Homo sapiens: one gene and its partners. The protein of the gene in region 2 purifies or fractionates together with the protein of the main gene of each other region. This does not show direct contact. Each region holds a gene or a part of one and is shown on either strand. Other genes may lie near its edges. The genes, in order: CACNA2D1, SLC7A2, LMAN2, QSOX2, VPS45, ABCG2 and ATP9A.

Evidence for each region.
Region 1: the proteins of SLC7A2 (region 2) and CACNA2D1 purify together in Homo sapiens (affinity purification with mass spectrometry; one large-scale study listed by BioGRID and IntAct). This does not show direct contact.
Region 3: the proteins of SLC7A2 (region 2) and LMAN2 purify together in Homo sapiens (affinity purification with mass spectrometry; one large-scale study listed by BioGRID and IntAct). This does not show direct contact.
Region 4: the proteins of SLC7A2 (region 2) and QSOX2 purify together in Homo sapiens (affinity purification with mass spectrometry; one large-scale study listed by BioGRID and IntAct). This does not show direct contact.
Region 5: the proteins of SLC7A2 (region 2) and VPS45 purify together in Homo sapiens (affinity purification with mass spectrometry; one large-scale study listed by BioGRID and IntAct). This does not show direct contact.
Region 6: the proteins of SLC7A2 (region 2) and ABCG2 purify together in Homo sapiens (affinity purification with mass spectrometry; one large-scale study listed by BioGRID and IntAct). This does not show direct contact.
Region 7: the proteins of SLC7A2 (region 2) and ATP9A purify together in Homo sapiens (affinity purification with mass spectrometry; one large-scale study listed by BioGRID and IntAct). This does not show direct contact.

What each region holds. Positions count from the first base shown.
Region 1 is NC_000007.14:81,961,084-81,964,870, forward strand, and holds part of CACNA2D1 (voltage-dependent calcium channel subunit alpha-2/delta-1 isoform 1 preproprotein), read right to left. Parts: intron 3,277-3,787; coding exon 3,124-3,276; intron 3,026-3,123; coding exon 2,973-3,025; intron 1,413-2,972; coding exon 1,357-1,412; intron 941-1,356; coding exon 811-940; intron 1-810. UniProt on the Homo sapiens protein: The alpha-2/delta subunit of voltage-dependent calcium channels regulates calcium current density and activation/inactivation kinetics of the calcium channel. Plays an important role in excitation-contraction coupling.
Region 2 is NC_000008.11:17,503,402-17,507,188, forward strand, and holds part of SLC7A2 (cationic amino acid transporter 2), read left to right. Parts: intron 1-3,787. UniProt on the Homo sapiens protein: Functions as a permease involved in the transport of the cationic amino acids (L-arginine, L-lysine, L-ornithine and L-homoarginine); the affinity for its substrates differs between isoforms created by alternative splicing.
Region 3 is NC_000005.10:177,348,582-177,353,147, reverse strand, and holds the start of LMAN2 (vesicular integral-membrane protein VIP36 precursor), read left to right. Parts: upstream 1-1,479; 5' UTR 1,480-1,500; coding exon 1,501-1,696; intron 1,697-1,856; coding exon 1,857-1,975; intron 1,976-4,566. UniProt on the Homo sapiens protein: Plays a role as an intracellular lectin in the early secretory pathway. Interacts with N-acetyl-D-galactosamine and high-mannose type glycans and may also bind to O-linked glycans.
Region 4 is NC_000009.12:136,211,069-136,214,855, forward strand, and holds part of QSOX2 (sulfhydryl oxidase 2 precursor), read right to left. Parts: intron 385-3,787; coding exon 196-384; intron 1-195. UniProt on the Homo sapiens protein: Catalyzes the oxidation of sulfhydryl groups in peptide and protein thiols to disulfides with the reduction of oxygen to hydrogen peroxide. May contribute to disulfide bond formation in a variety of secreted proteins.
Region 5 is NC_000001.11:150,070,606-150,074,392, reverse strand, and holds part of VPS45 (vacuolar protein sorting-associated protein 45), read right to left. Parts: intron 2,228-3,787; coding exon 2,167-2,227; intron 1-2,166. UniProt on the Homo sapiens protein: May play a role in vesicle-mediated protein trafficking from the Golgi stack through the trans-Golgi network.
Region 6 is NC_000004.12:88,155,491-88,159,971, forward strand, and holds the start of ABCG2 (broad substrate specificity ATP-binding cassette transporter ABCG2), read right to left. Parts: upstream 3,083-4,481; 5' UTR 2,896-3,082; intron 1-2,895. Other genes in the region: uncharacterized protein LOC124900867, read right to left, coding at 3,083-3,592, 3,980-4,066.
Region 7 is NC_000020.11:51,600,727-51,604,513, forward strand, and holds part of ATP9A (probable phospholipid-transporting ATPase IIA), read right to left. Parts: intron 622-3,787; coding exon 485-621; 3' UTR 1-484. UniProt on the Homo sapiens protein: Plays a role in regulating membrane trafficking of cargo proteins, namely endosome to plasma membrane recycling, probably acting through RAB5 and RAB11 activation. Also involved in endosome to trans-Golgi network retrograde transport.

The DNA of each region.
Region 1 (3,787 bases), on a different chromosome or scaffold from region 2:
CTCCTCCTATTTCTTCTTCCGCTATGGTAACATTTCTTCTAGAATAATCTTCCCTCCACCTCTAAAAACAAAGTGTCTCTACTCTGTGCTTTGTAAGCTGTGACTTGCTGCTCTCCTCTCAGGAATCCTGTGGCATTAATTATTACTTTCCCCTCAAAATCCCCATCTTGCCTTTCTCCTCTACCCTCATTACAACAAAATTAAATTCTCCATCTCTTTTTAAAAGATATTTTATGGATACTGACTAACATTAACCATGACCTAAAAAAACTGTATTTTTCCCAGTTCCTTCAAATTCAAATAAAGATAACATTCAGTTCTTCAAGTCAGAGAAGACTAGAAGTAAAAACAAAACAAAACAAGACTTTTTTTTTGTAAATCTGTTTAGTTACTATATAGAAAAATAAATAATATTTGGCTTAGAATTATTTAAATTACTAATATATTTAATAACTTTATATTAGAAATTTTTAATATGGGTTATTTTAGGAAAAAAAGTTAAAATATAATCAAATTTCTCTATGTTCTGCCTAAAGAGAAAGGAATTATCTTGATCATGTAATTATTATAGTTGAAGAAATAACAGCTTATCAAAGTTAGAATTTTAAAAATTACAAATTTTAAAAGTCTACAGAGAAACTAAAGATTGCTGACATTTTCAGCTTAAAACAATTACTCACATCTCTGACTCCAACACAATTTTCAGTTTTTTCTGTAATGATTATAACAGTATATACAATTTCTTAATGATTATAACAGTATATACAATTTCTTAATGAAATAGGACTACTCCTGAAATAAATAAATTACCTGGAACAGTTTCCACAGTCTAATACACCACTGAATGATTTACTGTCGTTATCGAAGAAATACTGGGTTTGTTCAGTAATGCAGCTCTGCTTGGACAGGGAGGCCGTGAAGTCATCATCCTCCATCTCAACTTGGGTGGCGGGGGACGGTGTAAAAACAAAGAACACCATTAGGAGGGGTCTCTGTAGTCACTCCCCTCGAGTCTTCACTTCTCACAGAGCAAAATAAACGTATAAGACCAGGACCCCTCGACTGGCTTGTTTACTGCTGTGTAATATCGTGGCAGCCCGTAATAGATGCCTGATAAATATCAAGAGAATAAATGAATTCAAATACAAGATGGCTATGAGATCAGGCCCGTGTGACCTAGGTAATTTCTAAAACATTAGGAAAGGTTGGACAAAAAGTTTCTAGCTCTAAAATTATGAGATGGGTGACCTGTTTTCTCTTTCACACAAATATTCTCTGAATTTGTTGAACTTCAAGCACATCCCAAAAGAAAATTTTTATTGTTATGGCAATGACAAGGTCTGAGCATTTACATACCTGCCTCAAGGAGTCGTGGAAAGGTCAAACTCAAGAGAAACTGCTGTAGAATAGACCTGAATTTTTCAAATAAAAAAAAAATAAACATCTAGGGAAAAAATGTGTTTTTACATGTACCCATACACATAAATACTGTTTCCCTTTATCTTTTTGGGAAAGAAAGTCTTGGAGTGTTTTTATTTAAGTATTTTCAAAATTATATAACACATTGTAACCTTTTTGTAATGTGTAAAAGAAGTCATGAAATCAGAAGTGTTCAGATCTTGTTCAGGATCAAGTGGGACACAATGTGTGAAGAAACCTAACAGGCAATGTTATCAAGCAGAAGAGTTCACTCTAAGAGGGAGAATGTCTGTTTCAGCGCGTAGGTTTTCACATTCATTACGTCTCCTTATTTTAGTTTTTAAAACCATTTGTTTTTTGGGTTTCCCCCGCCCCCAACAAAGAAACAATGCTGTTTATACCATGGGTTTGAATTTGTTAACTATTTACTTTGTAATATAGAATATATTTGTAAATATGTAATGTAACTTTCATGAAACAAAATATACATATTAGAGAGATACAGCACATTTCAGTTTTACAGTAACTGACAACTGAGCCAAATTTCTAGAACTGAATTTAGTTTAAAAAAAAGTGGGGGTGGGAGGGGATATAGGATAAAGCCAAGTATTTCAGGGTCATGATGAAATTTTAAAAGCCTACTGAAATTAATATATAAAATCACATCAGAAAATACCATTTTTCAGAATAAAACAGAATTTTCTAAATCTTTTAAAAACTCTCAAAATTTTAAAATCTTTTTTGCTGCTTTAATGATATAGTCACTTAATTTTAGCTGGGCAAACCTCAACATCAAATGAATATTGTACATTAATCTACATGGAATAGGGCTAACAATACAGTGTGATGATACAAAAAAAAAGATTAGAAGGGAGAGAGGGAAGAGGGAGATCATGGATTCCAGACGTAACAGGAGGTTTAGTTACAACTAAACAATGAGAAATGTGATCTTCCAGACCTTCCACAGTGCCACAATTGACCATTTAAATGTCTTATTTTCATAGGTTGTAGGGTCTACAGGTGAGGGTTGAGGGAGGTTTGGAAGGTAGCATCAGTGAAAAGAAATAATTAGATCCATGTCGGCAACCTGATGCCCCTAAAACAATACTAGTCCTTGTATCAATAGTAAAGAGGTAGAAGGTTGCCATCATGCCATGAATTTGATGCATGTAGACATCCAACTGGGATATTAAAGACAAATTGTAACTTCTTACAGATCAATACACCTAAAAGAAATTAGTGTAATGTTTTTATAAATATTTAATACAAATGAAAAGAGTTTCAATAGATATGTAGAGGAAGGAAGACTCTAAAGAGGCTGAAGTTTACATCCGCATAACATTGTTTTCATATGAGAAACTGAATAATGGTAACTTTATAGTGTTCACTTAGGAAAAACTATAAATATTACCAATAGGTGATGTAAAGAATGAAAACAACTTAACTCCCTTAATAAAAATTTGAATATCCCCTAAATCCATATTTTCATCAGATGCTTTTTTATTTTACAACTTCTTTCTTTCATTACCAATAAAACTAAAATTTTGACTTACCAGGCAGCAGCAGTGGCCCACCAGCCAATTTGTAATATGTCTGCTACTGATGGCTATAAAATAAAATAATAAGGTCATTTCAGTAGTCTACTTGATACTGAGGACACTTGAGTACCCCTTGAGAATTGATTAGACCGTGGATATTACTGACCACATATGCTGAGCGATGTCCTGCTCCTTGTTTTGGTGCAGCACCGGGCTCACATACTGACTGATAATCATAAGATTTGTTAAAAGCATAAACTGATATATTAACCAGGTGTCTCATCAAGCTGGGATCAATCTCTCCAAAAAATCTTCCAATCTGGTGAAGAAAAAAATCATAAAGCAACGTGCACTTAAAATGTAAGCCAAAAATGAACACGGGAATCACCACTACAGTGAAAAGAAATAATACAAAGAAACTGAACTACAACTGAGGAGCTTAAAAACAAAAGCAAATGAGAAACGTGTATATGACACTGTGAACAAACTAAAATGAGAGTAAGTGTTCTCATTACTCAGTGGGGCTGTGTGATATTTTATTTGTGGAAAGAATGGACACACATTACTAAGCATTAAATCACAATCAAATGCTTCCCAGATGAATAAAACAGGGCCGGGGAATGGAGAGGTATAAGTGGAAGGGTACAAAGAAGCAGTTATGTAGAATGCATAAGCCTAGAGATTCAACATACAACAGAGGACTGTAGTTAATAATACTGTGTTGTCTACCAGAAATTTGATGAGAGTAGATTTTAAGTCTTCTTACCATACCGCAAAAAAGGTTAACAACCTGAGATGATGGATATGTTAATTGGCTTGACGCAGTAATC
Region 2 (3,787 bases):
TTAGATCGCGAGTTTTTTCCTTCCTGAAATTCACTTTATATTCACTCCCGCGGTGTTCCTTATCTGTTCTAGCAAAGAGTACTTATTATTCATACGCGGCGCTCATAGTTCGCAGAATATTTGCAGCTTGCCAAGGTACTTGTCCTGACAAAAATTCAAATGGCAACTCTTCATGATAATTTGTATCAAAGAGTACTTATTATTCATACGCGGCGCTCATAGTTCGCAGAATATTTGCAACTTGCCAAGGTACTTGTCCTGACAAAAATTCAAATGGAAACTCTTCATGATAATTTGTATCAATGTGGGTATGAATTCCTGTGGGAAAAGCCTGAGCTCAAAGCTTTAGGCTACTCTGTATGGACTTTTTGTTTAATGATCATATGAAACAATACAATTTTATATTTATGTTTGAATTCACCAGCAAGTTTTAAGTGGTTTCTTTAATTCAGTTGTGATTTAAGCAATTGTTTGGGAGACGTCTTTGCTCTTGAGTTCTGGGGAAACCTAGAAGGAGCCTGGGGTGAGTTTTGACCCTCCATCCTTAAGTCCTCAGCAACACTCAGGTGTGTTTTGGCCACATGAGGAATTTACCTTTGTTCCACAGCAGCCTATGGCAAGAAAGTGAAGTCACATTGGCTGTGATTCCCCAAGCAAAGTGAGATTTCGATTTCAACTCAGAGGCCTGGCGTTTTGCATTGATCTGGACCTTTGTGAAGGCATTGGTAGAAGAATAACAAACTACTAAGAATTCAGTTTATTGATCATCCTGAAACAAAATGGCACTGCTGAGTGTTTAGTGAGCCTCAGTGAGGAGTAAGTATTGGGCACCAGCTGTGTGCCCTCTGAGAATGTGCCAAGTGCTTAGTGAGATTGAGGCCGGTGGTAAATGAGATCTTGTGGCTCTCCTGGACCACTGGTCAGTTTCTTATGGAGTTCAGTGTCTAGGGGATTGAAACCCTTACCTTTCAATTAGTTGCACTTTAAATTATTTCATACTTTAAAGTCTTGTATTGCAGTGATATTTTTAAATGTTTATGTAATTCTAATTGGCGGAGCCCATACTTGATAGAATTGCCAGTGGTTCTTATTATGGGATAAAATTGAGGTCATTTTGAGTGACCAAAGTAACAATTAATTCTATCCGGTTTATCAATTGTATTTCTATATGCATTCCTTAGAGAACCCATATATGTTCTCAGTTACTCTTCTACCACATCGTCTTCTCTTTGGCTTTCATCTTTATTACCAACTTTTATTAATACATTTGGAGAAGTTAAAGGTCATACTCTTTTTAGGTAGAATTGTATAATATTTACAACTTAAGCGCCATACTGTTTGAGCAGTCTCTGAAATTTTACTGCAACTCTTAAAAGATTGAGTAACTGACTCAAACAGGAGAACTAAAGAAATTCAGGTCCAGAAAAAGAAAAGATTGCGTGACTTTTACAGTTTTTTCTAATGAAAGGCATTTGCATGAATGGTTCCCATAGTTCCCTGATACACAGAGAAGGAGCTCCTCCTCCTTTACTCCGATCTGCTGGCCATTCTGTTTACATTCGTGCCTCTGTGGGAAAGAAGAACTCTAAGATCATAGCAGCTGTTCTGTGCAGCAGTGGCTCCCTTGATGTTTTAGGGGAGTTAAGGAAATTAAGTGATGGAAGCATGTACCACCCCCCACCCCCCCGCCGCCCACCCGATCCCATCCAGTTCACTTCCCTGTAAAAAAGAATGCACATCTGTATGTAAACTGTGCCTCTTCCCTCTGGCAATTTTGTGTAAGATTTCTGGAAGGTCAAGACTTCCCACATTCCAACCAGTGGGCAACTAGGGTTTCAGAAACCCAAGATAAGAACCTTGGAATGCAGAAACCATTTCAACTTCTCGAAGAAATATCTTAGGAGAGAATCCTGTGAGCAGGATGGGGCCTTCTTGGTCATGCATCCTTTCCTCTTGCTGAAGAAGACCGCTTATGGCCTCCAAGTTGGGGCTGAGAACTGGCCCAGAGGTAGATGTGGCAGTTGGGGTCACTCTGAGTCACAGAGGTATGACAGTAACATAGCAATGACCCTTCTCAACTAGTGCCATGGTGGATGCTGTTCCCTGGCCTCAAGGGTATACTTGACTTCAGTGATCTCCAGCCTCGCCATCTTTCTTTCCTCCAGATTCTTAGACTCGTAGATTTCAATGTCTTCCTATGGGCCAGAAACAAATTTACTTGAGTTTTGGCTGAGATAATTTAAACTGAGTATTTGTAAATGTCTGACATAAACAGAAAAAAAATGGGTAAGCATAGTCAGTGCCCTCTTTTCTTATCTAAAATTGGAGCATCTTTAGTGTGACATTTGAAATCTAATCTTGCCAGTTCAATGTCAGTCTGATACGGATATTCTTGTAGAAATCTCTGAGATTTAATAAACTTACAGTTGAGTAGAACTGAATCATACTAAAGACCAGTGGAAGCATCCTTGCAGGGCCTTATCAGTTTTTACAATGTAAAATAACTAACCCATAGCGTTTCCTTTTACAGTTAATGTTTGTTTAATAACATGCTTAAGGTATAATATTGAGACGAAGTGAGGAATTTTAATGCTGATTTAGCTACTGAAAAATTATCTCTTGCAACACTTGCTTTACTTGTAGTTAGGATTTGTAATGTTTTATTGCAAAAGAAAGCCCTCTTTTAAATGCGTTGCATTTGTGGCATAGTGGTTGTGTAGGTGGAGTAGGACTTGTGTCTGTACAATTCATCAAGAACATAGCACAGAGCACTTTTACATGCCATTCAGAGACAATAGTGGGTGTTGATAAAATTTGTAGTACTAGAGCTGTGAAAACAAGTGCTGGGCTGGTGCCTGCTTTAAACTCTCTTGAAACTTAGCAGAATTTCATTTTTATAACAAAAATCACTATTTTCTTTAAAGAGGATTGATAACATGAATAAGTCTAGGTGTCCTGGAAATTCATTTGGTTATATCACTATAAAAATGGTGAGACACTGTTGTGGTAGTTGGTTTTGTATTTTAAAGCGTAAACTTCACAGTACATTTAAAACTGTCCTGTGCGAAATTTCAGAGGCTTTGGACACGTTCCTTTCTAGCCTCCCTCGCCGTGGACAGTTATCAAGTTTCTGGCACGGTGCTAGACGAATATGGAAGAGAAGTAAGTGCCTCAGAATGACATTTTAGAACGCTCTTTTTATAGGTTAAGAGACTGAGATCTTGAGAGGTGTAACTCATCTGAGGTTAGACAGCTAGGGATACAGTGAAGACTGGAGTCCAAGCATATTGAAAAGTCAGACCATTCTGTTTTTGTGAAAACAAATAATAATTACTAGAATGCACTACTTCTGTGGAATTTTTTTTTTTGAGACAGACTCTTGCTTTGTTGCCTGTCTGGAGTGCAGTGGCGCAATCTCGGCTCATGTGAGGTTAGACAGCTAGGGGTAGAGTGAAGACTAGAGTCCAAGCATGTTGAAAAATCAGACCATTCTGTTTTTGTGAAAACAAATAATAATTACTAGAATGCACTACTTATTTGTGGAATTTTTTTTTTTTTTTTTGAGGCAGACTCTCACTCTGTTGCCAGGCTGGAGTGCAATGGTGCAATCTTGGCTCACTGCAACCTCCACCTCCCAGGTTCAAGCGATTCCCCTGCCTCAGCCTCCCAGGTAGCTGGGACCATAGGCGGGCACCACCATGCCTGGCTAATTTTTTTTGTATTTTAGTAGAGATGGGGTTTTACTATGTTGGCCAGGATGGTCTTGATCTGCTGACCTTGTGATCCA
Region 3 (4,566 bases), on a different chromosome or scaffold from region 2:
ATGCAATGGCGTGATCTCTGCTCACTGCAACCTCTGCCTCCTGGGTTCAAGCAATTCTCCTGCCTCAGCCTCCCGAGTAGCTGGGACTACAGGTGTCCGCCACCACGCCGTTAATTTCTTTTGTATTTTAGTAGAGACGGGGTTTCACCGTGTTGCCCAGGCTGGTCTGAAACTCCTGAGCTCAGGTAATCTGCTCGCCTCTGCCTCCCAAAGTGCTAGGATTACAGGCCTCAGCCACTGAGCTCAGCCGGAAGTCTGGATTTCTGATGTGAATGTACATATTCCGACTTTGTGTGTGTGTGTGTGTGTGTGTGTGTGTGTGTGTGTGTGTGTGACAGAGTCTCGCTCTGTCGCCCAGGCTGGAGTGCAGTGACGCGATTTCGGCTCACTGCAAGCTCTGCCTCCTGGGTTCAAGCCATTCTCCTGGCTCAGCCTCCCGAGTAGCTGGGACTACAGACACCTGCCACCACGCCCGGCTAATTTTTTGTATTTTTTAGTAGAGACGGGGTTTCACCGTGCTAGCCAGGATGGTCTCGATCTCCCGATCTCGTGATCCGCCGGCCTCAGCCTCCCAAAGTGCTGGGATTACAGGCGTGAGCCACCACGCCCAGCCTCTATATTCTGACTTTAAAATACTGGTAGTTAAGCCATTTATTAGAATATTGGCAGGTAAAACAGAGCTCTATTCAGCTGCAGGCCACCAGTTTTCGACCTCTGATTCACAGCTTTCCTGGGCCTTCCATGGACGTTACTTGCTGTACCAGGCACTGCGCTCTTTTGCATAGGGATGAGTTCCAGTCATCACTGGGGTCCCAGGCCAGGATCTGTGTCTGTTCCTCTTGCTTCAACCCGACTAGGCCTGAGGAGTTGAGGGTAGTGGAGGCCCTCAAATAATTGGGAATTCTGAGTCTCCAAAGGCGCGAAGCTGGGGCGCCTGACGGCAGGCACGGCTTAAAGGCTTGCCCAGGGCCACCCGGGGAGGACAAGGGTTGGAATGCAGGACTCCGCCTTCAATTCAGAGCTCCTTTCTCCAGGACTAGAAAAGGTTATTCCAGAGACGGGACTTGCGGCCAGAAGCCCAAGACGTCCTAGTCTTCGCGAATCCGCCCCATTAGAGCGACCGACAAAAACTACAAATTCCAGCATGCCCCGAGTCGCGGACGGCCCTCGCGCTCCCGCCGGCTCCAACCATCCCTCTGCTCCTCATTGGCTCGCAAGCCTAACGTGCTGTTCCGTGACTGGTTACAGCTCTTGTCGCTCGAAAGAACCCATTGCTGGGGCTGGCCGGCGTGTGCCTTGGAGCCTCTAAGGAGATGAAACTGCACTCAACCAGGATGAGAGGCTGCCCGGCCAATGCAGCTGCCGCCCCGTCTGCTGCGGAGGCTTTGCTTTTTGACTCCCTGGCGACAGTAAAGTTGAAGAGCTTCCGGCCGGAGGCCAATAGATGGGACCCCCGGAAGGCGGAAGTTCTAGGGCGGAAGTGGCCGAGAGGAGAGGAGAATGGCGGCGGAAGGCTGGATTTGGCGTTGGGGCTGGGGCCGGCGGTGCCTGGGAAGGCCTGGGCTTCTCGGCCCCGGCCCTGGCCCCACTACACCTCTCTTTCTTCTTTTGTTGTTGGGGTCTGTGACTGCGGATATAACTGACGGCAACAGTGAACATCTCAAGCGGGAGCATTCGCTCATTAAGCCCTACCAAGGTGAAGCCCTTGGGGCGGGAATGAGTGAAGAGTGAGGGCGAGGCTGAACAGGGCTAGGGGAAGGCGTGCCCTTTCTCCTGAGCAGAGCATCTCTGTGGGTTTCCTGCCTCTGGTGAGGCCAGTCCTGGCGTGGCCTCTTAGCACCTGTCTCTTCCCACAGGGGTCGGTTCCAGCTCTATGCCCCTCTGGGACTTCCAGGGCAGCACTATGCTCACGAGCCAGTACGTACGTCTGACCCCTGACGAGCGCAGCAAAGAGGGCTCTATCTGGAACCACCAGGTGAGTGGTTCTCAAGAGGATAGGCGTACTGTGCGGTTGGCTGCTAGTCCCTGCCTCCCGAGCAGCTGAGACCCCAGCTTCGTTTATAGGTTTGCACCTCCGTCCCTGGCCTTTTCCTCATCTCGGTCACACCCACCAATAATAAGAGGCGATGGGTATTGGGTACTTACTATGTGTCAGGAGCTGCGCTTGACACTTTACATCCTCCTCACTTTAAAAGCCATGCGAGATGAGTAATGTTATCTCCATTTTACCCACTGAGAAGCTAAGACTCAGGTTTGAAAGGGCCTTACCCAAAGTTACATAGCCAGAAAGTAGTGGAACTGTCAGGCTGTCTGCCTTGAACCCCCTCAGTAATGGGAAGAACCGAGCGAACTGGATCTTTATTGGGTGTTTTGCTGTGTATTAGGCACTGACCTTGCCATGCCTTATTGCATTTAATTTTCAAACAAGCTGTTTGAAATAGATGGCTTTCATGACTATACAAAGATAACCCAGCTAGCAAATGTCATAAACAGTATTTAAACTCTGATTTGTCTGATCTCTAAGCCCAGCAGTTCACTCGATGTACTTGACTCTTTTCACCTGGACAGTGGAGGAACCCCTTAGAACCCTTTTTGCAATGCTTGGTTGAGGGTCTTGTCATCAGTAGTGTGGAGGGACTGGACCTGTGGGCAGTTCTAGTGTCTGTGACCTTTGCCTCAGAGTATGTAGTATGTAGTATGTGAGCAGTGGCCAATGACAGCTGCTACACAGAATCCACACTGAGGCAGTCAAGGTGAGGAAAAAGGGGAAAGAAGAATAATTTGGGGCTGGGTTACAGCTTGGAGCGGGACCTGCTCCTGCCCCAGCTTGCCTAATCTCAGCCCTTCCCATGGCTTAAGCTGTTGGCCAGTGTTCTAGTTTTCTCCATCACCCTGCTCTCTGATCCCTGCTGGTTGACTTTCTTGTTTAGTTCTGGGAACCCACACTGTCCTTGTGTTGCCTGGTCTGCCCGTCCCCTCTGCTCCTCCTCTCCTTCCTGCCCCGAGCCTCCACACTGCTGTTAGTGGCATCTGCGGATACTTTCTTCAGCTTTCAGTCTGATCCTCAGAGCGTGGAGTCCCCTGTGAAGGGGTAAGCATGCATTATGTCTGCACAATCTGGCCCCTTGTGCATCTCCAGTCATTCTCTGTGTTAATTTTGTTCCAGCCCCCCCTGGCTGCCTTCTTGCCTCAGGACCTTTGCACCTGTTGTTCCCTCTGTCTGGGACACTGCCTCCTGGCTCCTCATGCCTGCTTGGTTCCTTCTCATCTGTTAAGTCTCAATTCAAGTGCCACCCACGCAGACATTTCTTCATTAACCACCCTATCTCCCCCGAGTCACATTCTGTCACATTCTGTCTTAGGGCTTTCAGATATTTTAAAGAAATGATAATTCAGCCTTATATTTTTCATGGAAATGAGTTCAGTATAGCATTATTATTATTTTTTGAAAGCAAGGTGCAAACAGTGCTGGAACTGTAGAAATCAGGAGTAGCCACAAGTAATAGACGCATCTAAGACAGTGGCTTACATTTTGGTTGTAGATAGCTGATGGTTGGCATCATCAGTGGCTCGAGGATGTCACAGGACTGAGAGGCTTCTGCACTTGCCTTCATCGAATTTTCAGTCTGGAGTACAATTGTTTTGCCTTCCTTCCTCCACCTTTCTATTTGGCTCTGCTGATATTCCTGAAACATTTGGAGTGCTTCCTGTAAACTCTGGAAAGAAATGGCTTGGAAATCAGAATTTTCTGTTCAGTGTTTCCCAAGAACTGCCTCTTCCTTTAATGAGCTGGAGAGATGCTTCCTAAACTTTTCCCTTTTTTATCTCCTTCATTCACTCCATCCGGGAGAGGCATGCACTCAGGCGAACATTCCCTGAACACCTGCTGTCTTCTGAGCAGCCATAAAATAGCTCCTGCTGTGGTGCAGGGGGGGTGGTCTAGATGAAGGAGTGGCTCAGAGTTGACTAGAACTCTTAAGTGCCTGGTGGCTGCAGCATAGGACCTGGGGAGGCTGCTCAGGCCCTGTCCTTTTGGGGGTCTTGTGCGGAGGCTGCGGCAGTGGTCTTTAAGCTTTCTTTGCTGTTGTAGCAACCTTTTGAAAAGTTGGCATCAAAAATTGTTTGTCATTAGGTTTAAGTATTTGCAAAGGATGACAGCATATTTTAAATATTGACATTTTAAACTAAAACTGTTCAGTATTTTAAACATTCAGTGGAATCTAAATATTGCAATTTGATATCCACTTTTTTTTTTTTTTTTTTTGAGACGGAGTCTTGTTCTGTCACCCAGGCTGGAGGGCAGTGGCGCAGTCTCGGCTCACTGCAACTTCCGCCTTCCTGGTTCAAGTGATTCTCCTGCCTCAGCCCCCTGAGTAGCTGGAATTACAGGTGTGCACCACCACGCCCAGCTAGTTTTTGTGTTTTTAGTAGAGGTTTTTTTTTTTTTTTTTTTTTTTTTTGAGACAGAGTCATGCTCTATCACCCAGGCTGGAATGCAGTGGTGCGATCTCAGCTCACTGCAACCTCCACCTCACGAGTTCAAGCGATTCTTCTGCCTCAGCCTCC
Region 4 (3,787 bases), on a different chromosome or scaffold from region 2:
GACAGAAGCAGCCTGGGAAAGGCTGCAGCTCTGGCAGCTCTCAGCCACCCAAGTCCTGATCCCGTCAGCACAGTGGGTGGCACGAGGCCGCAAAGCTCAGGGACAAGCCCCACGGCAGCCGTGCCGTCCTTGCTGTCCCAGGACCAGGGCCTCCCTCCGCCCGTGCTGAGCCCCCCATGCCCAGGGGCTTCTCACCTGCCAGGCGGCCGTTCACCATATTATGCTTCTTCCACAGCCAGAGGATGGCTTGGTCTGGGGTTTTCACCGAGTCCATGGATTCTTTAGCCATTTCCTCAAAGTGCTCACCACATTCCTTACACCCAAAGAAGGTGTGAACGTACCTCCTCATTGTCTGCAGCACAGCCTGGGGGTCGTCTTCAAAGCCTGCAGGGGAAGAAACACTGCTGACAACGGCAGGTGCGTGGGCATCACCTGACCCCACGCTTGTCCAGAGAGCCTGGGGGGAAACCGCTCCTGACATGTCGGGAAGCCACCTCATGTCTCCCCAGGGGCCTCAGGCTGTGGGCACAGACCAGAAGCCAGCACCTGCCAAGATGTCCAACACGCCCACGGGTGCTGCAGGCTCTGGAGACACAATGACTGTGGACAGCCCAGAGGGCGGACATGCTCCCCAGATGCCCTGGTGCCAGGAGGATGAGCCACGGACTCGGCCGCCAGGGCCCAAAGGAGCCCTTCCAGGGGCGCCTCCCACCTCCCACCAGTCTTCCAGCCGTCTGTGCCAGAACGCCCGGAGTGCCGCTCTTCCCCGGGATTTGCCAGCTGGGTGCAGTCTCTCTTGCCTTACAAGCAACTCTCAGGGGCTGGTACCAGGGCAATGACTCTGCTCATTCTAAACCTGCAGCTGTCGCGTTTGAAAGCCCTGCAGGACACCAGCCCAAGTGGGGACACGGCCTTAGGAAGTGACTCTTAAGCTGCCGCCAGCCACGGGCGTGAGGATGTGGAGCAGGTGGGCAGGCACAGGGACGGGTGCACCCACAGCCAGAGTTTGTGCCACCGAACGTATTAACAGACATGGACAGGCCGGGGCGCTTCCGCAGATACTGTGAATGAACAACACACATCTCAAGAAAGCAACACCTGCCCACAGGTGGCAGGAAGCAGCCAGCACCGCAACCAAGGGGAACCCCTGAGAAAACCAAGGGGGCAGCATGGGGCGGGGCTCGGCAGTCCCCACTCAGACGACTGACACAGGAGCTTGAACGCACAGATAGGAGACCCATGAGATTAAAACAGATTACATGTCAGCATTAAAAAAAGACATGCTTTCGCGAATGAATCCGTCTTCATCGACAGCAGGCCCTGGGGGAGCTTCCCGCGTGAGTGCAGGCCTGACGCTTGTCGTGGCTCCCTGCAAAACACAGCTGCGTGCAGGCCCTGACCTCAGCGTCCTGGTCGGTCCCAAATCCCGACACTTCTTGTTTATTTCACCCAGAAAGGTGAGAGCAGAGCAGAGCAGACCACCTCCTCCTCAGCCTTGAGCGTGTCCACGGGCAGCTGGGCGGTGTCTCAGATGGGACCGCAGGCGCTGGCCCTGTGACCCGGCCCGTCTGCCCTGCTCTCCTGCCGGGAGGGCTCCACAGACATCTGCCTTGCATCTCCACGTAATCCCCCTCCTCTTCCCCACATCACCGCAGGCGCGGGGCCACCCTAATCTTTAAAGTGGACAAGAACCATAAACCTCTACCTGTGGGAGGATTAGAGGCCTTCACAGGCATTTTACTAGATAGGGCTTAAACATACAGTAAAGAGAAGAAAAACCTTCCAAGACTTAATCCCGTGGTCGCCTCTGACCCAATTCTCTTGGCAGGAGGCTACTCCTGGAGGCTGCTTCCAATATGCTGATGGGCGGAAGGAGCGCTGAGGGTCTTGCTAGCAGTGTGCTTTGCCATCACACTGCTCTTACAATTCCACTACACTAGGGCTGGTCCTAGAAGAGTTTAAAATCAAATACCCCGGTCACTCAACTTCTCCCCTTGGCCAACACTGTACCCACACTGCCTTCAAGGAGCCGTTCCTCATGCCTGCGTGTGCCCGTGTGATCAGAGCAGACGGAAAGGGGGATGGCATGTCAGCTCATCTCCTCACCAGAACTTTCCATGTGTAAACGTGAGGTTTCCTAACTCAGGCTCACGCTTCAGAAGCAGTTTTGTTGTGTTTTTTTTTTTTTTTTTTTTTTGAGACAGTCTTGCTGTTGCCCAGGCTGGAGTGCAGTGGCATGATCTTGGCTCACTGCAACCTCCAGTGCTGGGATTACAGGTGTGAGCCTTGTGCACAGCTCAGAATCAGATTTACATGGTCTGGCTGGGCATTCGGTCGGAATCAGGTTTGCATGGTCTAGCTGGGCATTAGATCAGGCAGTGTGGATGCTGTGATTTCAATTTCTGTTTGGACAGCTCCCAAGGTTTCTCCCCAAAAACATACTACTCTTTTTTTCTGTATGATTATGAAAAGGATTTGAGGTTAAAACCCACCCTCTCCCCCAACCAGACCCCCGAGAAGCAGTAATCCAATATCACCTTGAGGAGGGCCAAAACAGATTTTCAGAAGGCCACTATAGTGCCCCCATCCCGGGACACTCTCCCATTAACAGGTGGAATCTATTTCTCTCACCACGAATTTAGGCTGGGTCAACAGGATGCGGCAGAAGTAATAATATGTGACTCCACACTGAGGTGGACTCTCAGGGGGTCCTGCCTGAACCTGGTGCTACTTGGTGGGGAAGCCACGTTCAGGAGTACGAGGCATTCCAAGGTCCCCTGGACTGACCAGCTGCCACCAGACGAAGGCAGACACACACGAGTGAGCCCAAGCAGCAACTCACAGAAGAACCGCCCAGCCGAGCCCAGCCCAAACTGCTGATCCACAGCATGATAAGCAAACAGTGGTGGCTGCTTTAAGCCCCAGCATTTTAGGTTAGTTTGTTATGTGGCAAAAAATAACCGTAAAGGAATTTGAGAATCTTACTGGAAAGAGCGTTGAACTGTGTGAGTCAAGACTCCACTTCGGCTTTGAAGTAAACATTAATGAACCTGAATTACTGCTTCAACTGGGAAGCACACACACAACAAAATTCAGGGGGGATAAAAAATCCAATACATACTTTAGTGTTCTGTGAAGGACAGAAAATTTGTTTTTATCTATTTCCTAGTAATTGAAAATTATTAAATCCAACTTCGAAGTTTTATAGGTTTTAACCCCTTGTGGTGGGCAGCCTCTGCGACGGTCCCCACAGATCACACCACCTATACTCACGCCTCCTGTAATGTCCTCCCCTTGCGAGTGGCCTGGGCCTGGGGACTGACTAGTAAGCAGAATCTGACAGAGGTGATGGAATATCATCCTCGGATAGGCACCCTCTCACTGGCTTGCTGATGAGGCTTGCTGCCATGATGTGAGCCGCCCGATGGAGAGGCCCTGAGCGTGGCCTGCAGTCAACAGCCAGCATGGAGCTCAGGGCCTTAGGCAAGCCACGTGCAAGGAGGCAGGCCCTGCTCTCTGCCCCATGAGGGTGCTGGGAAGCCACTCTCCCCAGGTGGGCCTTGGGTGACCCCCCAGGCCCAGCTGACACTCCGACTGCAGCCTGACCAATCCTGAAGAAGAGGACCCAGATGAGGCCATGCCCGGCCCTCAGAAACCATGAGCTCATAACCGTGCGTGGTTCCCGTGGTTCTGGCTGCTAAATTTTGGGGTGATTTGTTATACAACAGCTGATAATGAGAACACCTCTCCAAACAGATTTCACTTATTCTGTCTTTTTAAAGCAAAA
Region 5 (3,787 bases), on a different chromosome or scaffold from region 2:
TTAAATTAAGAAAACTTTTTTTTTTGCAGTTCCAGCTCAAAGGAGGAATGAACTATTAATACACACAACAGGTGAGGTGTGGTGGCTCATGCCTGTAATCCCAGTACTTCGGGAGGCTGAAGCGGGCGTATCACCCAAGGTCAGGAGTTTGAGACCAGTCTGGACAACCAACACGGTGAAACCCTGTCTCTACTAAAAAAAAATACAAAAATTAGCTGGGCGTGGTGGTGTGTACCTGTAATCCTAGCTACTCGGGAGGCTGAGGTGGGAGAATCGCTTGAACCCGGGAGGTGGAGGTTGCAGTGAGTTGAGATGGCGACACTGCACTCCAGCCTGGGTGACAAAGCAAGACTGCTTCTCGGACAAAAAAAAAAAACAAAAACAACACACACACACACACAGAACAGCCTGGATGACTCTCCAGAGAATTATGCTGAGTGAAAAAAGCCAGTCCCAAAAGATTATATGCTGTATGATTTCATTTATAGAACATTCTTCGAATGACAAAATATAAAATGGAGAAAATATTAGTGGTTACCAGGGTTAATGAGGGGGTTGGGGTGGGACAGAAGTCCATATAAGCTAATAAAAGGGATCCTTATAGAGATGAAAATGTTGTGTATCCTGACTGTATCAGTGTTAACATCTTGGTTGTGATATTGTACTATCATCATGTAAGATACTACACAGGGGGAAGCTGGGTAAAGGGTATCTGGGATCTCTGTATTATTATTCGTTGTTTTTTTTTTAACTGCACATGAATCTACAATTACTTCAAAATAGAAAGTTTAATTTTAAAAAGAAAACCTGTGACTATTAGCCAAAAACAAACAGACAAAAACAAACAAAAATTAAGTTGCCACAGATTAATAAAATTGCCTATTTTTACCTCTTGGGGCGTCGTGCACTGAAAACCCACTGGACAAGCTTTATGTAACTTTTCAATTCTACACAGAACTGAATGAAATAAAATATGAGAGAGCTCTTATATATATATAGTCTTTTCGCAAATGTTAATTTTTTGTATCATTATTCTATTTAAGTAGTATACGCTGAAGAAAGTATGTACGTCTTAGACTGTAGTCTAAACCCTAAAACTCTAATACCTTTAAGTAAGCTTTAAAACTTCTCAAATGCCCTACTTACTGTTAAATCTAGTCCTTGGTTTTGGAAATGTTACCAAATAGACTACACTAACACTATTAACATAAAGATAAATAATGACATCTAGAGGAGAATAGATGTAACTTCTACAGCCGAATGTATTGGATCAAAAAAATCCATGTAAATTGTATAGTAAACACAAACCTAGTTTATTTCCAGATCTCCCCTACCTAACCCCCACTCCAAGAAAGTTGTGCACATAAGAGATCACTACCTGATGATTTATACTTTCAGTGCATTAAATATAGTAACAAAGAGAAGTGAAAGGCTTTTATCTGGTATGTAAAGTAAATTTCTGCTTTTCCAGCAAACTCAAGTATTACCTTCCCACTTCAAAAAATAAATCAGCTTCCATGCCTCAATTTTTAAGTGTAAAACAGGGATAAGTATATACTTTTTTTTTTTGGCAGGGGTGAGATGTGAAATTTGTCTACTTAAAACTTTTGACTTACAAAGCATCTTGAAAGGCAAAGTAAAATGTAAAATTTTTAATTTAAGCAATCAAAGATGAATGGAAATCACATTTAGCCCTCTGAAACAGAATATTGGTCAAAAGTATTTTTTTTTTTTTTGAGATGGAGTTTCGCTTTGTTGCCCAGGCTGGAGTGCAATGGCGCAATCTCGGCTCACTGCAATCTCCGCCTCTCCGGTTCAAGCGATTCTCCTGCCTCAGCCTCCCAAGTAGCTGGGATTACAGGCATGTGCCACCATGCCCAGCTAATCTTGTATTTTTAGTAGAGATGGGGTTTCACCATGTTGGTCAGGCTGGTCTCAAACTCCTCAGATGATCCGCCCGCCTTGGCCTCCCAAAGTGCTGGGATTACAGGTGTGAGCCACCGCGCCCGGCAGGTCAAAAGATTTTTAATACTTTGGAAGGACATTAAATAAACTAGACTTTTATAGTGACAGATTCAATGAAGTTATTGATGATATGAAGGGCTCAATGAAACACACTAACTGGGATGTTGTTACATGTTTGAAAAAGTGAACTAACATACTTACAAATGAAATATATAGTGTATTTGGGTCTTCGGAGCTCCTGAATAATATAATCCACATTCTCCTAGAAAATGAAGAACAAGCAAACAAAATATGAGGAGAGTTGCTTAAGGAAAAAAGTAATAAGCATTCACCCATTGATTTGTTTATTTACTGCGTCTACTGCATATTGAAGTCTAGGTTAAGTGTGCTTATGTTGGTGGGTAAGGGCTGGAGACAAAAGAGATAAATTAAATACAATGATCGGGAATCATATATTATTTAATAATATGTGTATAATATTAAATATTAACCAGCTGCATTTTGGCCAATTAAGATAAAGAATATAAAGGACACAGATGTTGAAACACAACATAAAATTGATTATAATTCTGCAAACTCACATCAAGCTGCTTGTCTATAAATTGTATTCATTTGCTCAAAATTCTTTTTTTTTTTTTTTGAGATTAAGTCTCACTCTGTTGCCCAGGCTGGAGTGCAATGGCACAATCTTGGCTCACTGTAACCTCCGTCTCCTGGGTTCAAGCAATTCTCCTGTCTCAGCCTCCCAAGTAGCTGAGATTACAGGTTTGTGCCACCATACCCAGCTAATTTTTTGTAATTGTAGCAGAGACGGGGTTTCACCATGTTGGCCAGGCTGGTCTCGAACTCCTGACCTCAACTGATCCACCTGGCTTGGCCTCCCAAAGTGTTAGGATTACAGGCATGAGCCACTGCGCCTGGCCTGATCAAAATTCCTATATAGAGCATTAAATGTGTCTATTCCTTTAAAAATTAACATGCAAGAGAAAATAAAGTTAATTATATTCACTTTGGCTTTTAACTTATTGGGATGTAAGACTCTGCACAACTACAATGTTTGTGAAGTATTTGCAAGTAGCAGGCTAAGATCTTTTCTACAATTACATTGTTTTAAAATAAAGTATGAAAGTTTAAAACAAAAAAGTTGATTTTTATATGGTCAAAATATAAGATTCCAATTACATAAGATTATAATGCAGGTTTTATTGGTTTTTGATACTATAACACCTGGTTAAATTTCAATATAAATTGTTCCCTAAACATATTAATTTGTTTTAAAAATCACATTTCTTTACAGAATTAAAAAAAAGTAAGCAATATATACTGCTTATTAATGGGGAAAGGGTTTTAAAAATTGTAATTTAGATTTAAAAATGCAATTTAGATTTCAAATTAACTTTATAATATAATCTTAAGGCAAAAAATTTAAATAATAAATCTTTTAAACCTCAATTACTTCCTCGTAATATGCTAGGCAAAAATAACAAAGTGAATTAAAAGATTCTTAAAAGTTCAGACAATGTGGAAAAAGACAAAAGAGAATATATAAAAGAGGAAAAAGAAAAAGGAAAGATTCTTTTTTAAAAATTATTTTTAATTTTTATTTTATTATTATTTTTTGAGACGGAGTCTTGCTCTGTCGCCAGGCTGGACTACAGTGGCGTGATCTCAGCTTACTGCAACCTCTGACTCCCTGGTTCAAGCGATTCTCCTGCCTCAGCCTCCCTAGTAGCTGGGACTACAGGCGCCTGCCACCATGCCTGGCTAATTTTTTTGTTGTTTTTTTTTTTTGTATTTTTAGTAGAGACGGGGTTTCACCATG
Region 6 (4,481 bases), on a different chromosome or scaffold from region 2:
TGTGTAAGTGTAGGTCACAGAGGATATGATGGCTTAGCTTGGGCTCAGAGGCCTGACACCAATCTTTTCAGACTTAGCATTTGCTAAGTCACAAACTTTTTATTATACATAAAAAGTTCAAAAGTAACTCTAGGCCGGGCACGGTGGCTCATGCCTGTATTCCCAGCACTTGGGGAGGCCGAGGCGGGTGGATCACCCAAAGTCAGGAGTTCGAGACCAGCCTGGCCAACATGGCAAAACCTCGTCTTTACTAAAAACATTAAAAATTAGCTGGGCGTGGTGGCACATGCCTGTAATCCCTGCTACTCAGGAGGCTGAGGCAGGAGAATTGCTTGAACCCAGGAAGCGGAGGAGGTTGCAGTCAGCTGAGATCCCACCATTGCACTCTGGCCTGGAGCAAGACTCCATCTCAAAAAAAAAAAGAAGTAACTCTAATAGAACATCCAGTGTCCAGATATTAGCTTCTAATACCATTCTAAAGCAAAATAATCACAGTGCCTTGGAGAAATGGATCATTCCAAGGTTGGGACATGGAAAATACAAAATAAGCCTGAGCATTCTCTGATGCCAGAAATCAAGAAATGCATTAAAAAAGAAAAAGAGTCCGGGCATGATAGCTCACACCTGTAATCCCAGCACTTTGGGAGGCCGAGGCGGGCAGATCACTTGAGGCCAGGAGTTTGAGACCAGCCTGGCCAACATGGAAAACCCCGTCTCTACTAAAAAATACAAAAAGTAGCCAAGTGTGGTGCTACGTACCTGTAATCCCAGCTACTTGGTAGGCTGAGGCACAAGAATCGCTTGAGCCTGGGAGGCGGAGGGTGCAGTGAGCCGAGATCGTGCCACTGCACTCCAGCCTGGGCGACAAAGACTCCGTCTCAAAAAAAAAAAAAAAAAAAAAAGAAGGAAAAAGAAAAAGCAAGTGTATGTCAAAGTGGCACAGGCGCCAACCTGAAAAAGGTCCCAGTGGTGAAAGCCAGAACAATTTGAGCAGCAAATTAAATACTGATAATATTGGATTATAACCCATATAACAAAACAAATATCCATGAGCCCATACTGATACAAATAACTGAATCAATGAACAGGAGAGAAGGGTCAACTCTTCCCTACAGAAGGGAATTTTAATTAAAAAATGTAGAAGGAAGAAAATAGGGGTTTTGTTTAACCATTAGGAAAAAAAACCCGCTAAACAACATGTTCCACAAATGGATGCTTAAATTAATGAATAAAAGTTTAAGGAAAAATGGCAGTGCAGGTTTCTCTCCCAAGATCTCAAATACAAAGGGAATCTGGCAAACAGATTAACATCATAGGTAATAAGAAGTATCGGCTAGGGCACAGTGGCTCACGCCTGTAATCCCAGCACTTTGGGAGGCCAAGGCAGGAGGATCACTAGAGGTCAGGAGTTCGAGACCAGCCTGGCCAACATGAAACCTGTCTCTACTAAAAATACAAAAAATTATCTGGGCATGGTGGCAGGCGCCTATAATCCCAGCTACTCAGGAGGCTGAGGCAGGAGAATCGCTAGAACCTGGGAGGCAAAGGTTGCAATGAGCTGAGATCGTGCCACTGCACTCCAGTCTGGGCAATAAAGCAAGACTCAGTCTCAAAAAAAAGTATTGACATCATGTACCCAATATGACATACTGAGATGGAAACTTTACTTCTGTGACATTTTTCCCCAAAATGCAGAACATTCATCTAATCATGACACTAAACATCAAGCAAACACAAATTGAGGGGCATTCTACAAATTAACTGACCGGGTCTTCTTCACTAGTGTCAAGGTCCATGAAAAAACAATGAAAGGCTGAGGAACTGTCACAGATCAGAGAAAATTAAGGATATTTAGCAGTTAAATGCAAAGTGAGATCATCGATTGGATCCTGGGCAGAAAAAGGACAGTGGAAAGACAAGTGAAATCCAAATAAAGTCTGTAGTTTAGTTCATTGTATTATAGTAGCATGCCCATGTTATTAGTTTTGGCCCTTGTTATGCATGATATTATGGGAACTCTCTGTACTATTTTTTGCAAATTTTCAGTAACTCTCAAATTATTTCACAATTAAAAGTTATTATAAAATAAATAATAAAATAACCAACATCTTTCAATGTTTATAATGGAAGGGTAATGTTAGACTTAACATGCCATCTTTGTCGTTGAAACCTTTCTCATCAAGATCTCATCAAGATCTATACAATCCAGTCAAAGCTGTACTCTGAAAGCACTGTTTTGTAAAGAATATCAATAAAAAACATCTCTTCCTTACTACTCTGGTGTATTTATTTATGACTAGCTGACATTCAAATGATAAGAGAGCTGTAAGATCCTCCTAAAAACCAAGCTTTAGGGGATATCTCTAGGACTGAGAAGGGAGTAAGAGCACTCAACTATCCACAGAAAATTACAAAAGGGAGTTCAATAATTCTTTAGCAAACCATCCAAAGCTTTAAAGGGATTGACCAATAATTTGTCATTTACCTATTCCCAATTGTCATTGACCAATTCCTATATTGGTCAACCCCTTTAAAATATTAACATCAACAAATGTTTCCTCCACCTATAGTAACTTCTGTGCTCAGTGGGTTTTTATCCTTCCAATATCAACTTTAATTTCATACATTTGGAGAAAGGCCAAGAGTTTTTACCAACCCACACTTAACACACTATGGGACCCAGAATCAGTTTGCACCAGGGCATCATTTTCTGAAAAACCACTTTGAACTGTCAGTTTTAAACTGCATACCCACTTTCAAATGAAACTGCGAAAGGCTAAAAAACTCAGTCGTCTCGTTTGAACGGTTACCGATTTTCTAACAAATATATACACAACGCCCACCAACCTTTCCAGACACACACTCTCAGCGAAACTGGTTTTACAATTTACTCACTCAGCTTAATAGAGCTCGGTCTTAACCAAAGGCTCAGGATCTCAGGATGCGTGCGCTCGGAGGCAGCGCTTTAACAATTAAGGATGTAAATGTTGGGATGAGTCACCCGGACCTTCCAAACAAACTCTAAAGCAGCAGTTTCCACTTAACAAGACCACCAAGCATGTGCACGGTGCGTTCCTAAATCCTACCCAGTTCCTCCACAGGCTGCCTCCTTGCCGCGTCTCTCAATCTCAGTGGGAGTGGCGGGCACTGCCTCTTCCCTCCTGCGCGCCCGGAACCTTTTGAGTGGGCACAGCACGCAGCCCGCGCGCGGCACAACCCCTTCCCCCAACCACACCCGGCGCGCCCGAGCGCTCCCCTCGCGCGGCGGCCGGCGTGGGAGGCGCTGCGGCTGGAGGTCACGATGGGAGCCGGCGGGTGGCCGCCTGGGGAGACCCGGACATCCAGGGGACGAGCTCAGGCAGCGCTGACACGAACTTCCTAAGCCGCGCTTCGGGCTGTGGACCGCCAGAGCTGAACGCAGTGGCCCCTCCCCAGCGCCCCGGGTTTCCCCAGGTCGGGGTTCGCGGGCGGGGGTGAGGCGTGGCCCCGACTGCCGGGCCGCGATAAGCGCCCTGCGACCCGGCTGAAAGCGCACACGTGTCCTGCCGCGCTGAGCCGCCAGCAGGACTGGTACCACCGCCCTCCCTCGGGGCTAGGGTCACCCTGCCGTGACACGCAGGGACAAGCCAAACACTCCCGCCTCCGGGATCGAACGGAATGAACCAGAGTGATTAACTACGAGAATCACCAGGCGCTCATTGGGCTGATCAGTACCTCGTCTGACCTAGCTGGGTTTGGTCGCCGTCACTGGCCGGAGCGCCGAAGCACCGGGGACGCTGACGCACAGGTTGCCCAGTCACAAGCGCTGCTCGCACCCAGAGCAAGTTAAATGGGTGGTTTCTGGTGAATGGGATTCTGAGAAAGTGGATGCTTGCGCCCCAGGGCCTAAAAAAATCAGGCACTGAATCTAACCCAAGGAAGGAAAGGGGAGAAACTTACTGAATGAAAATATTACCATAGTTTAAATGTTATTCTTTACACTCCTGTGACTGACATACTTCTGTGCAATATTCCGATGGTGTGGAAAGGCTAGAAAGTGATTGCGCATGTTCAGGAAACGGGCCATCAGGCTTTGTGAGTGTAGCCATCCCAACATCTACCTGCTGCATCTACCCTAGGAAATTAGTACCTGCATGCAGATATTTTCTGGTTTGCATTTACAAACAAAAATCATAGTATCATTTAAGTTGTTTAAATCAACACTAGGAATAACTATTAATGGTTCACCCAATGCAGGAAAGTTTTAGCTAGGAAGCCTAGATAAGAAAATTGACTATACATAATTTTTTAAAAAGAATTTTAAATATACCATACCGCATGCTTTTTAAAAGAATTTTAAGGTATATATTCATGATGCGCCCAAACATTTGGGTAAAATTATTCTTTTGAATTAATTTCTGTCAGTTTCAAGACCCTTAAAGGCCCATATAGAAATACATGTTAGTCATACTTCATTTTAAGACAAAATTAAGGCCAGCACG
Region 7 (3,787 bases), on a different chromosome or scaffold from region 2:
AAGAGCTTTCTATTTTTCTGACACCTCTTTGTAAGAGCAAGAAAGACATAAAGAGTACATACACATTAGGACTCTTTAAAAACACACACACACACACACACACACACACACACACACACAAGCCTTCTACAACCTTCAGCTACACAGAAACTTTTATCATGTGACAACAAAATTCAAGTCATAAGGAAGCTCGCACAGTGACCCATATAAATCTCCCAGCTGAGCCACCAGCTTTAACATATTCATATTCACCTAAACATGAAGAACGAGGGGTTCAGACAGGCCCAGATGGGTCTCTTTCAGGACCCTCCCTCCCGTTGATGCAGCGTTAGGACTCCGTTTAGGCGCAGAGCCACTTCCCATTAAAACTGCATGTGTTAGCAATTACTGCAAAATCCACAGGTGGCGGTTAATATAAATGGAACTTGAGCTCTGTCCATCAGGGAAGCGCCAAGACCAGGGCCCCCTCCAGCGAACGCACGGCCTATGATGTGAGCTTTGAGTAGCTGGGGGGAGAGAACCGTCTTCGCAGGTACTTGAGGACATAGAGGGGGAGGCAGCTGACCAGAGTGATGACGGAGACTTTCCACAAGAATGACAAGGTGGCGATGAAGTACACATCTGCAAGGAAAGGGGAAGACGGCAGTGAGCAGGCAGGAATATTCCGGAAGGTGCATGGGGTCCAGAAACAGGCGTCACAACTATCAAAGGGAAAGTCATCTCCCGTCACAAACCCACAGCCTCCTGGCATTGGCCCTCTTTCTCCATGGACTGTAAGGGAAGGTACCATGGCTAAGAGCACACAGCGCCGCAGCTTGATTTTCCTCGCTCTCTCTTCTGTAGCTTCCTGACAGTGAAATGCTACTTTTAACACCCAGGAGAAGAAAACTATGGGGGCCACCAGATGCAGTGGCTCATGCCTTAATCCCAGCACTCTGGGAGGCCAAGGCGGGCAGAAGAATTGAACCCAGGAGTTTGAGACCAGCTTGGGCAACACAGCAAAACCCTGTCTCTACAAAAAATACAAAAACTAGCCAGGCATGGTGGTACATGCCTATAGTCCCAGCTGTTCAGGAGGCTGAGGTGGGAGGATCATCTGAGCCCGGGGAGCTTGAGACTGCAGTGAGCCAACATTGCACCACCGCACTCCACCCTGGGCAACAGAATAAGACACTGTCTCAAAAAAAAGAGAAAAAAAGAAGGAAAGAAAATTACAGGGGAAGAAAACTCAGAGATGCTTTTGATTTGGTGTTGTCTAACAGTTGGAGAGTCTTTCTAAGTCCCGGCCACTGGCGAGCAGAAAATGACATTCAAATGCACCCTCTGCTTCCAGTGATGGTCGCAGAAAGCCACAGGATGAGTCTGGGTCATGGTGCAAAGTGTTCAGACCCCCTTGTCAGAGAAAGGCTTAAGCTGACCCTCAGGGACTCTGATGGAAGGTGGGGGGGGCGGGCGTACTGCCTTTCCTGCTGCAGGATTATAAACCCGGTTATGAGGTTTTCTTAAGAGAGGAGTGACAGTTTGTGGCTTTCAATATAGCAGAAGCCAGAATAAGCCCCTTCTCCACTTTCTGAGCACAGGATGCTGAAATGCAGCTGCCACTGAGGCAGCACCTACTAAGTGCCAGGCCCAAGGCTCAACTCACCCTGTGGTTTTCCTACACCTCTGACCCGGTCCTGTGGTGTGTCCCTATCACAAACAAGCTGAGCTTCCTGAGCAGGGGCCACATCTCTGTGACCACCTCAGGCCCAAGCCTTTGAGCACATACTAGGTCTCACAAAACGCTTTCTAGAGACTAGTGACAAGGGTGAAACTGCTTTAAAACTCCACTGTTCACAGGGATGCTCCTTTAGTTCCTGGAGCGCACAGTAAATGCTCACAAATCCTTTCTAGAAACTGGGGCTGCAACTGTGAAACCTTTACTTTTCAGGGGATGTTTCTTTTACCTTTACTAAAACCTTCCTAAGGAGCTTTGGAAGCTGGCAAAAGAGCCGCGATCAAAGATGCTTCCAGGGTAAGGTCGAGTTTCTCTGCCTTTTTGTTGTTATTGCCCCTTAAGGAACATTTTTAGACTTTTCTTCTTCTCCTAATTGACCACCTCCATGACATGTTAATGTCACAGGTATACTGTGTATCTGTTTATAATATTATATATACATCTCCTTTATACGTAAAAGGTTAGGGTTTGTTCACACCCCACCAAAGACCACTGTTTGTTCCCCAGGCGGTGGGGTCCACACCACCCCCACTGAGAAGGCCTGAGGTAAAGGAGCAAGGGATGGGCCATTGCTAGAGAGCCTGGGCCCTGCAGGTTTCCCACGGAGGATGGGGCGTGAGGGGGTTGTCATTAACTGAAAGTTTCCCCCAGAGAGAGTCTATCCTGCAATCCTGAACACACATGAGCTTCTTAGCAGAGAAGCAGCCTCCGGGCCCTGCTCCCCCAGCTGATAAAGGAGAAACAGTATCACTCTTGAGGGTTTTTTGTTTGAATAACACAGACAGAAAATTAAATGCTCCTACTGAGGAGGAAAGAGGTGTAAAGAGGACTGTCTGCTAAACCAGCTAGACTTTCAGGATGACCCCTGGCCCTGAGGTTCCAAAGCCATAGCGGCTTGAGTTTGCCCCGTGCGGGGGAAACCAAGATTAGAGTTCAGAATCTATCCACAGCACAACACAGAAAATGCTGGATCATCTGAACCGTGCCCGTGTTGCAAGTTCTAGTTGAACTAGAAACAGGTTTCTAGACAGGAATTAAAGCCCGTGTCAGCACCCGATGGGGTCCGTAGCATAGCATGGGGTCATCTTGGTGGCCCTGCAGGGACTTGTGGCTCAATCAATTGGGAAGAAATTAACTGATATGGCAAAGCAAGTGAGGTCAGCATGGAAGAGTGATGAAACCAGGCTTGTCCATCTAGAGACAGTGGCTGACGCTGGACAAGCCCAAGAGTACCTGGAATCACTACTGAGGTCAGAGAAATCTGCCACCACCCCACATTAGGATGGTGCTGACACTCCCCCATCTCTACATTCCCATAACATTTTTTATTATTTATTTATTTATTTATTTATTTAGAAATGGAGTCTTACTCTGTCGCCCAGGCTAGAGTGCAGTGGCGTGATCTCAGCTCACTGCAACCTTCGCCTCCCGGGTTCAGGCGATTCTTCTGCCTCAGCCACCCAAGTAGCTGGGACTACAGGTGTGTGCCACCACGCCCTGCTGATTTTTGTATTTTTAGTAGAGATGGGGTTTCACCATGTTGACCAGACCGGTCTCAAACTCCTGACCTCGTGATCCACCCGCCTCTGCCTCCCAAAATGCTGGGATTACAGGTGTGAGCCATTGTGCCCGGCCTCCATAACATTTTTTATTTGGGGTGTGCCTGGGCGTCTAGCACCTCACCCCATTTTTCTTTCTTGGTAACTTTGATCACATCTGATATTCCTGTGCTCACACTCACTTAATGTGTGTTTATCGTGTGTTCCCAACGAGAAGGGCAGCTCCCTGGCGAGCCCGTCCACCTCATCTGCCACCATAATCCTGGCACACGGCAGGTGCTCCCACGTCTACGGAACTGGCGAGTACCTTCAGCACTTGGTTTGCTGTGAGGAGCAGCAGATTGTATTCTGAGATCCCTGGAGTCCCTCAGGAGCTCTATCAGGACACAGCAGCAAGGCAGGGCTGCACGGGCAAGGTTCTGGGGCTCGGCACCTCCCAGCACTGCCACTTTGCTATCACAAGTCCCCTTTTATCAGTTTCATAGATTGGACTTCAGATTAAGATTTCATG